2 separate regions of the Homo sapiens genome follow, and region 2 is linked to region 1. Evidence: fine-mapped expression QTL. A gene starts in region 1. The other region holds a variant in brackets. All regions are shown on one strand. Distances are from middle to middle.

Region 1 (5,367 bases):
TCGAGACCACCTCCTTAACCTTACAGACATTGATTGTGAGCTTGGAGCACCTTCCGTGACTGGACCACCCATGCAGTGGTCCTTTGCTTTTTGCATTTTTAACTGCAATTTTCCCCAAGAGTCTTCCCTAATACAGTCTCTTAGGAATTGACGGTGGGATTAAACAAGGCATGTTTCTGCACTGAATATGGTCTATGGGTTGCCACTTTGCAACCTCAGCTTTAAGGCTTATTTCCTCCCAGGAAACTGATGTTAACTTTTTAAGTTAAAAATGTGTATATAAGTAATACATGTTTATTTTGGAAATTAGAAAATACAGGCCAGGTGTGGTGGCTCATGCCTGTAATCCCAGCATTTTGGGAGGTTGAGGCAGGAGGATTGCCTGAGCCCAGGAGTTTGAGACCAGCCTGGGCAACATAGGGAAATTCCATCTCTACAAAAAAATTAAACATTAGCTGGGTGTGGTGGTGCCCACCTGTGGTCACAGCTACTCGGGAGACTGAGGTGGGAGGATAGCTTGGGCAGGGGAGGTTGAGGCTACAGTGAGCCACGATCACACCAATGTGACACAGTGAGACCCTGTCTCAAAAAAAAAAAAAAAGAAAGAAAATATAGGTAAACACAAAGACAAAAAAGCAGGGCATGGTGGCTCACACCTGTAATTCTAGCACCTTGGGAGGCTGAGGCAGGAGGATCACTTGAGGTCAGGAACTCGAGACGAGACCAGGCTGGGCAGCATGGCGAGACCCCATCTCTATAAAAAGTACAAAAATTAGCAGGGCACGGTGGTGTGCACCTGTGGTCCTGCTACTTGGGAAGTTGAGGTGGGAGGATCACCTGAGCCCTGGAGGTTGAGGGTGCTGTGAGCCATGATGGCACCACTCCACTCCAGTCCAGGTGAAAGAGCCAGATCCTGTCTCAAAAAAAAAAAAAAAAAAAAGTGGCTGGGCATGTAAACTTACCAAGGACCAAGGAGACAAGTCTTGAGAGAAAGGAAGGCAACTCAAAGGATGGACTTTTAAACACTTGTAACCAGCATTGGGAACAGTAGTAGGTTGAAGAGGGAAATCTAGAACTCATGCCTGAAAACTGCCAGTCATCCAGCCCATTTTTCCATACAGACATTTGGAAATAAGTTAATGGAGCCATTTTGGTGAGAGCCCTCTGTTCCCTTCAGGAGGCCTTTGTCAGGAAGAGGGTGGGGCAGGGGACTCACCCCCCACTCAAATCTGGAACTGAAACCAGCTTCAAAGCCGAGTGCAGAGCCAGCGCGGTGGCTCATGCCTGTCATCCCAGCACTTTGGGAGTCCAAGGCAGGCCTCACTTGAGGTCAGGAGTTCCAGACCGGCCTGGCCAACATGGTGATTGCACCACTGCGCTACAGCCTTGGGTGACAGAGCAAGACTCTGTCTCAAAAAACAAAACAACAATAAAACAAAGCAGAGTGCAGGAGTGGCTGTGGACTCTGGACGCCCTGCTAGGATTAGGATGGGTGTTCCTGGCTCATGGGCCTCACTGGCTCTTCTGATGCCCTGCCACCCCCACCCCAGACTGGCTTTGAGCCCCGGAAACCTTGACAGCTTTCTAGAGGTGTCTGTCAGTTAGGTTGTGCCACGCGAAGTTGCCGTTTCTGCAGGTCAAATAGTGGTGGACTATTGGCAATTTCTAGGCACCTCTGGTCTGGTTGATCCAAATCCTCCAACCTGTGGCACATTTATTTAGCGCTCATTTTGTGCCAGCCTGCCTGCTAAGCAACTTATAGCCATTTTTATTTGTATTTATTTTTCTTTTTGAGACAGGGCCTCGCTCTGTCGCCCAGGCTAGAGTGCAATGGCGCAATCTCGGCTCACTGCAACCTCCACCTCCCGGATTCAAGCGATTCTCCTGCCTCAGCCTCCCGAGTAGCTGGGATTACAGGGGTGCACCACTACGACCGGCTAATTTTTGTTATTTTTAGTAGAGACAGGGTTTCACCGTGTTGGCCTGGCTGGTCTTGAACTTCTGGCCTCAAGTGATCCACCCGCCTCGGCCTCCAAAAGTGCTAGGATTACAGGCATGAGCCACCGCGCCCCACTATAGCCATTTTTAAACTGTCCCAAGTTTCTGAGGAAACGGAATTGTTCACCATTTGACAGAGAAGAAAACTCTGGCTCAGATACTCCCCTTTTAGAATTGTTTCGGGGGCTGGCTCGTCCGTCAAACTTTAAAAAAATAACAACAGCATGCTGAGTTGAAGTTAAAAGAGCTGGGGTCTGGAGGTCGCTGGGCTCAGGGGCGCTGCCACTCAACAGCTGCGCCGAGCTGGGGACGCGCAGGGGAAGCAAGTTCCCAGCTCTGTGGACTCCAGGTCTGAGAAAAATCCTGTCGGTATTCAGCCACCCAGTGTTCCCATCAATACGATGAGAATAATGAGGACAATAGCCACCACGTCCGGCAAACTCAGGCGTGAGCTGCGAGGACTCGGTACCGCCCGGCAGGGAAAAAGCAGGGCCTGGAGGCCGAGGAGCCCCACCCGCACCCACCACGTGGAGCCGGCCGGGCCTGCGGCGAAGCCACAGGGCGACTCCCGGGGCGCGGAGCGGGGCGGGGGCGGGACTAGCACGGCCCCACTCTGCCGACGCCTCTCCCAGGTCGCGACACCGGCGAGCCGCTCCGCCCGGCCACCGTGTCCCTCAGCACCCACGGACGCCGGGAGAGGAGGAGGTGGCGAGGGGCACGGCCGGGAGGCGTGGCCTCCGCTTCCCCTTTTTTTTTTTTTTTGGTCCGCCTAGCTAAGGAAAGGTTCCCCTGCGCCTTTAAGAGGCCGACGCGGGCAGCCGATTGGCCCAGACGCCTCGGTGACGTCACGCCGGGGCCGGAGCCCTCCCCCTCCCGCCGCGCCGCGCGCTCGCGGACAGTCGGCGCGCGGGCCGGGCCGGGCCGGCGCCCCTCTGCCTCGCGCGCTTGTCGCGTTGCCCCGGGCTCCGGGGGATGCCCCCGGCCGAGCCCTTCTCATGGCCGCCGACGTCTTCATGTGCTCCCCGCGCCGGCCTCGCAGCCGGGGCCGCCAGGTGCTGCTCAAGCCCCAGGTGTCCGAGGACGACGACGACTCGGACACGGATGAGCCGTCCCCGCCGCCCGCCTCCGGCGCGGCCACCCCGGCCCGGGCCCACGCGAGCGCCGCGCCACCGCCGCCTCGGGCCGGGCCGGGCCGCGAGGAACCTCCGCGCCGCCAGCAGATCATCCACAGCGGCCACTTCATGGTGTCGTCGCCGCACCGAGAGCACCCGCCCAAGAAGGGCTACGATTTCGACACGGTCAACAAACAGACGTGCCAGACCTACAGCTTCGGCAAGACTAGCTCCTGCCACCTGTCCATCGACGCCTCGCTCACCAAGCTCTTCGAGTGCATGACTTTGGCCTACAGGTAGGGACCCCCGCGACCCCCTGAGGCCCCGGCCGGAGGCCCTTGTTTGACAAAACAAGCGTGGAGGGAAGGGCCGCCTGGCAACCCCGTGGCTTCATGCATTCCCTTTGGGTCTTCCTCCTTCGGGAGGGTTTATGGATCTGGGGTTCCCCGCGTTGCCAGAGGAGCCGGGGTCCTGGCCTCTTCCCCTGCCAGCAGTGCCGGGGTCCTTTCGGGTTCACGTTCCCCATCCAGGCCCTCCCCTCCAGTGTCCTGGGACCACCGATGTTGGACGAGGAAGAGGTATAAACACTGGCTGCATCTTGTGTTACCCGACTCTATCGACTCCTTCCTCCAAACGCTTTGTGTGTTTCCCCCATATCCAGCAGCGGTCAGGACCACCTGTTCGGGGTGACTGGAGGCTGGCTCTGCTGTTTAATGGTTGTGTAACACCTCGGAGCCTGTTTCCTCCTTTATAAAAGGGGAATGACTGTAGTGTCTGCCTCCAAGGGGCTGTTGTGGGGATGGAGTGAGATAGGTAAATTGCTTATTCCAGTGCTTGGCCAGAGTTAGGTGTCCCTGCACCTGGAGGCTGGCCCCCTTACAACCTCATCGGGAGGCCCGCCCCCATCTCGGGAGGGCTTTGGGTGCCTCCTAAGAAGACTTTTGGTGCCACAGCTGTTGGAGGTGCAGTCTGTCCTTCTGGCAAGTTGGAGGGTTTTCTGGCCGGTCCTGAAACATTATATGAGGGAGATGTCATTGTTGAGGGCAGACATCCCAGACACCGTTCTGACATGTGGATTCGGCTCTGGGCAGAGATTCCTCTTTTCCAAGTCACAGAAAATGCCTGGCCCTCAAAGATTAAAGCGCTTTTTCACTCTCTCTCCCTTTCCCACTATGAATATTAGGTATTTGCTGCAGGTAACTTTTTTGTCTGCGCAACAGAACTTCTTTGGACTGGCAGCAGCGGCCTTGAGCAGCTTGGCCCTGCAGAAAGCTCATGATGGGATCTCTGCTGAGTTAAGCTTATTGCATTAGGAACTGGACTAGCGGGGGCTGTCTTAGGTCTGCTCTGGAGGCATCGCGGGAGAAGTTTCCTAGGAGACTCCATAAACAGCGTAATAAAAGAGCAGGAATATCTTGCCCCCTCTCACCTCACCTTTTTAAGAGAGCTGTGAGCCCCAAGCATATCCAGGTTTAAATGTTATGCTTTTACCTGAAGTTAAAATATTAGATACTTAGCCCTGGATGGCACCCCCCTCACCGCCGCGGTCCCTGGAATAAACGATTAGTCAACTTGTTCTTTGTTATGTTCCTGAAACACCCCTATTTCCTCTCTTGAAGGTTTCCCTGATGATCTGTTCCCGTAGCTCCTCCTCCCATCCCCCTTACCCGGCACATTGGTCAGTCTCTGCTGATTCTCTGGTCTTGCCAGTTTGAGCTGGCACTGAGCCTGTAAAGATGTTCTGCTTTTTAAAAAACAAATGGTGTTGAGGCTGCAGCCCTGTGCGCCCTCCAGTCTCTGATTTTGAGCAGTTCCATTGGAATCAAACCCGACTGGATCGCAGCATATGCTATGCCTCGAGAGAGCCTTTTCAAACAAAGCTCGAGGTGAAAGACTGGAATGTATCTTATTAAGAAAACTTAATCCTCTTCTTTATTTTAATATAAACTTCTACATATACAGGGAGAGAATGGATGAGTCACGGGGGGCATGGACTGGAAAGGTCTCACCTAAGTAAGCTCTGCTAAATGAAAACTAAATCAGTCTCCCCTTTGCACTCTTGTTTGGATAACCTAAAGGCTTATTAAACAACACCAAATAATTTTAGTAATGGCATTTTTTTTTTCATTTCTCTCAAAAATATTTTGGCAGCTGGCCGTTGCTCAGTTAACTTTCTTGATTGCAAAATGCACCATCAGTTTGGTGCAAGAAGCTTATCTTGCTCTCTTGGCTCTCTCACTTTCGCTGCTTTTCCCTG
Region 2 (5,367 bases), 55 kb after region 1:
CAGAGAGAGCACGGTTGCCTCCATCTCCCCCAGCCCAGCACAGAGCAGATCGCTGCCTTCCTTTAAGAGGCGAGACTTGGTAGAATGGGCAAGGGGGCGAGCAAAGAATTTTTTTTTAAACTGAACTGTTTTTTGTAGTAACTGCAAGGTCTGGGAAGTTTTTCTGGGACATTGTTCAGCAAGGAAATTGGCTCTGGATTTAGCCGTGACTGTAAGCAGTTCTCCCTCGAAGCAGCAGAGGGCACTGATGACACAGCCAGCTCCCTACCAAGGCCCTGCAGTTAGATGGGTCCTTGAGCACCTGCCATTGTGACAGCAGCAGAAACGTCAGGCCTGGGAGTGTTTCAGAGCCCAGGATAGTTGCCAACATGTGTGGTTCCAACCAGAGCCCCCTTTCTACAGAAAAAAAGGTGTCTCAGGGTAATACCCTCTGTCCATGGCATCCCCCTGGGCCATGTGGGGTTTAGGGGTTTAGTCCTTGATTTGTTTGAGTCTTTTTTTTTTTTTTTTTTTTTTTTTAGAGACAGGGTCTTGCACTGTCACCCAGGCTAGAGTGCAGTGGTTCAATCATGGTTCACTGCAGCCCTGAACTCCTGGGCTCAAGCGATCCTCCCACCTCAGCCTCCTGAGTACCTGGGACTACAGGCACACACCACCACACCCAGTTCATTTCTTCATTTTTTTGTAAAGACGGGGGTCTGCTATGTTGCCCAGGTGATCCTCCTGCCTCTGCTTCCCAAAGTGCTGGGATTACAGGTGTAAGCCATCACACCCAGCCTGTTTTAGTCTTTGTTATTTTGAGACAGAGCCTTGCTCTGTAGCCCACGCTGGAGTGCAGTGGCAAGAACACGGCTCACTGCACCCTCAACCTCCCTCCTGGACTTAAGCGATCCTTCCGCTTCAGCCTCCTGTGTAGTTGGGACCACTGGTGGCACCAACCAGGCATGGTGGTTGTGGTTGGCACCTTTTTTTTTTTTTTTTTTTTTTTTTTTTTGAGACGGGAATCTCGCTCTGTCATCAGGCTGGAGTGCAGTGGTGCGATCTTAGCTCACTGCAACCCCTGCCTCCTGGGTTCAAGCCATTCTCCTGCCTCAGCCTCCTGAGTAGCTGGGACTACAGGCATGTGCCACTACACCCAGCTAATTTTTGTATTTTTAGTAGAGATGGAGTTTCACCATGTTAGCCAGGATGGTCTTGATCTCTTGACCTCATGATCTGCCTACCTCGGCCTCCCAAAGTGCTGGGATTACAGGCATGAGCCACCGTGCCTGGCCCTGTTTGAGTCTTGATTCCAGCAAATGCTGGGCACACTGAGCTCAGAAGACCCCTGCTGTTGTTTTTCAGACCTCTTCTCTTCTAGCCGCTCCATTTTTGGCTCCATGCTACCTGCATCTGCCTCAGCACCTGTACCAGATCCCAACAACCCACCTGCACAGGTAGAGGAAGCTGGGGGATGGGTGGGGGAAGGGGCTGGCAGGCACAGGGCTGCTCATCAAAGGTTTGCTGCCAGAGCAAGGCTAATGGCATAGCCACACAGTCACCAGCAAAGCGCCAAGCAGTGCTAGACCAGCACTAATGTGCAGAGGCACGATTCCATCCCTCTTTTACAGCATCCTTCAGCACCCATGGGGTGGGAGACTCTTGGTCCAGGTGTGCTTCTGCCTGAGTGCCAGGTAACCTATGTGCAGCTAGCTCTGCTCCGACTAATTAACACAGAATTAGCTAGACAGAGAAGAAAAACATGGATTACTAATAAAAATAACTTCTGTATATTTCTTTCACGTTTTACTAAGCAATCCAAAAAGTTGCTTACAGGTGCTTGGGGCTACAGAGCTGAGTGAGGTACCATTCTTTGTCCTTACGGAGCCCTCATGCTTATGCCCATGACCAGTTAGACACTGGTAACCTGGCACCATCTTCAAACGGGCTCCGGGAAGAATTGCTACTGCAGAGACTGGGATCTGAACCATTGATTCCTCGTAGCTTTTCTTATTTAGGAAGAGGTGGCCTGATGACCAGTTGACACGTGAAATTGTCCTCGGGGATTCCCGAGCAGCTGCAATCCAGGCTGCCTCTGCTCAGTAATAGAAGATGGCAGAGACTTTGGGGAGACTCTGCTGGACTCCAGAAACAAGATATTCCCAGGCTGCTAGCCAGCTGTGTGAGGGCCGTTGCCTTATCTGAGCTCTGAGTTATTTAGTTTTTAATGGAAACAAGACCCCCGCAGACACGCAGGGAAACACAAATCCCTATCAGATCAGCAGCCATGGACGTGGAGACGTGGCCTTTGTCCCTCTGTCCCAGCGCCCGGCCTGTGTAGTTGGACTTGGCAGTGTGCAGCGCTAGAAAGGAATTGTCTGACCCCAGCATTGCTTCCTGGCTCCTTTCTTCCTTTTTCAGGAGAGCATCCTGCCGACCACAGCCCTCCCCACTGTGAGCCTTCCTGACAGCCTCATCGCGCCCCCTACCGCCCCATCCCTGGCTCACATGGATG[A/G]GCAGGGCTGTGAACACACCTCCCGGACTGAGGACCCGTTTATCCAGCCCACGGACTTCGGTCCCTCAGAGCCGCCACTGAGTGTCCCGCAGCCCTTCCTCCCTGTCTTCACCATGCCCCTGCTGTCTCCCAGCCCCGCCCCACCGCCCATCTCCCCCGTGTTACCATTAGTTCCTCCTCCTGCCACTGCCCTGAACCCCCCGGCTCCACCCACCTTCCATCAGCCACAGAAGTTTGCTGGAGTCAACAAAGCGCCGTCTGTCATCACCCACACGGCCTCTGCCACCCTCACCCACGATGCCCCCGCCACCACCTTTAGCCAGAGTCAGGGCCTTGTGATCACCACCCATCACCCTGCCCCGTCAGCGGCCCCTTGTGGGCTGGCACTGTCTCCTGTCACCCGGCCTCCCCAGCCACGGTTAACTTTTGTGCACCCCAAACCTGTATCCTTGACTGGGGGCAGGCCTAAGCAGCCCCACAAAATAGTGCCTGCTCCCAAACCAGAGCCCGTGTCCTTGGTGTTGAAGAATGCCCGTATCGCCCCAGGTGAGCCAGGCGGGGAGACTCAGTGCGGGGCTCCCCCCGACCCAGAGGGATGTTTTCCCATCCCAAAGGCTTTCAAACTTGTGACCACCACCACCACCCTGGTGTGCACGTGCATGCGCACACACATACACTTAAATGAAACAAAAGTGTCATGAAATAATACATGGCCATGATCTAGTCCGTTTTCTATGCTCTATCTTTTTTGTTTTTTTGTTTGGTTTTTTTTTTTTTGAGACAGTCTCTGTTGCCCAGGCTGGAGTGCAGTGGCATAATCTCGGCTCACTGCAACCGCCCCCTCCCGGGTTCAAGCGATTCTCCTTCGTCAGCCTCCCGAGTAGTTGGGATTACAGGTGTGCGCCACTATACTCGGCTAATTTTTGTTTGTTTGTTTGTTTTTTGAGATGGAGTCTCACTCTGTCGCCTAGCTGGAGTGCAGTGGTGTGATCTCGGCTCACTGCAACCTCCGCCTCCTGGGTTCAAGTGATTCTCCTGCCTCAGCCTCCCGAGTTAGCTGGGATTACAGGCGCCCATCACTACACCCAGCTAATTTTTTGTATTTTTAGTAGAGATGGGGTTTCACCATGTTGGCCAGGCTGGTCTCGAACTCCTGATCTCAGGCGATCTGCCCACCTTGGCCTCCCAAAGTGCTGGGATTACAGGTGTGAGCCCCCACACCCAGTCTCTATTCTCTTTTTTTTTTTTTTGAGACGGAGTTTCACTGTTATTGCCCAGGCTGGAGTGAGATGACATGATCTTGGCTCACTGCAACCTCTGCCTCCCGGGTTCAAGTGATTCTCCTGCCTCATCCTCCTGAGTAGCTGAGATTACAGGCATGTGCCACCACACCTGGCTAATTTTGTATCTTCAGTAGAGATGGGGTTTCACCACATTGGCCAGGCTGGTCTCGAACTCCTGACCTCTGGTGATCCACCTGCCTCGGCCTCCCAAGGTGCTGGGATTACAGATGTGAGCCATTGCACCCAGCCTCTCTATCTTTTTTTTAAAGTTAGTCACAACCTACAGTGTGAAAACATGGTCCTGGCCATCTCTTTCCTGGGTCTATAACATGTCTCCTTCAAGAAGTCACACAAATGGTTTTAGGTGCCTTGGTGGCTTTGTCTTCCTGTCCCCTGGGGTTGAGAACAAGCTGTCTCACTGGCAGAGAGGCAGCCTCTGCAGGGTGGGCCAGGCCCTGTGGCCCAGGGCTGCACCTGAACATCCTCCTTATCCTGGCAGCTGCCTTTTCAGGCCAACCACAAGCGGTGATCATGACGTCAGGGCCTCTGAAGAGAGAAGGGATGTTGGCCTCCACCGTGTCCCAGTCCAACGTGGTCATTGCGCCTGCTGCCATCGCCAGGGTGAGGAGGGCCCTAGGCAGACCTGCAGTGTCCTTCTCACCCCGGAGCACTCTGATCTTGGGCGGCCCTCACCTGAGACGACTGGTGTGCCGCCCTGCTGTATATCAGCAGTCAGGGGTGACCTGTCTCCCATGTCACTGCAGGCTCCTGGGGTCCCGGAGTTCCACAGCAGCATCCTGGTGACAGATCTCGGCCATGGCACGAGCAGCCCGCCTGCCCCCGTCTCCCGGCTCTTCCCAAGCACAGCGCAAGACCCCCTGGGGAAGGGCGAGCAGGTCCCGCTGCATGGGGGCAGCCCCCAGGTCACTGTCACAGGGCCCAGTGAGTGTTCACTCGGCGGGATGGTTGGGGCATCGCAAGGGAAGTAACTGGGCCTGCCGTAGACCATGGGGGGTGCTTGCTGGGTCCCCAGGACGGAGCCTGGGCTTAGGACACACAGTGAGGTCTTGTAGGCCTGCTGATAACACAGTCTGGGAACACGCTCTGTGGGTGGCAGGATGAAATGTGGTGGCACTGGCAGGGCAAAAAGTAGTGAACATGTGGCAGTGTAGGTGACCCGTGTGCTCGGGGAGTCCCTGCTGACTGCCCACGAAGGCCTGGTACTGAGCTGCTGATCTCACCCAGAGAAGGGATTGAGGAGCCCTGGGCTTCCTGTCTCTGGGAGCATCAGCCTGGGGTTGCTGTGGCCACAGAAGCCGTCCAGCCTCATCTGGGCACCAACGTGGCCTTCCCCAGCAGGTCTCAGCACTACAGGTCTGTGGCCCATGTCCACTCTTAGGCCATCCAGGGGCAAGATAGTCAGAGCAGGACTGATTTTGCCCAGGGACATCTGAGGAGCCAACAGGCCAGATCAGGGACAAATGGTGTGCCCGAGGCTGTGCTGCTGGTAGAGGGTGTGGGCAGATGGGGCCCCTTCCCTCAAATGCCTGCCATACCAGGAAGGGAAATGGAAATGGCCTCTTTTCTTAA

The links. PIP is the estimated chance that this variant, and not a neighbour inherited with it, causes the effect.
Region 2: its variant is fine-mapped to the expression of MLXIP in whole blood (TOPMed, PIP above 0.99).

The regions. Positions count from the first base shown.
Region 1 is chr12:122,075,861-122,081,227 of GRCh38, forward strand. It overlaps MLXIP (MLX interacting protein), which reads left to right and starts at 2,896. Exons shown (of 17, transcript NM_014938.6): 1 at 2,896-3,406. The coding sequence starts at 2,994. RefSeq lists enhancers at 1,122-1,171, 3,239-3,478, 5,346-5,367 and silencers at 2,439-2,718, 2,729-3,178.
Region 2 is chr12:122,130,948-122,136,314 of GRCh38, forward strand. It overlaps MLXIP (MLX interacting protein), which reads left to right. Exons shown (of 17, transcript NM_014938.6): 8 at 1,345-1,436; 9 at 2,401-3,040; 10 at 4,277-4,398; 11 at 4,542-4,719. Among named protein-coding and RNA genes, the nearest start is that of IL31, 41 kb to the right of the region's middle. The variant A/G (reference allele first, on the strand shown) is at 2,495.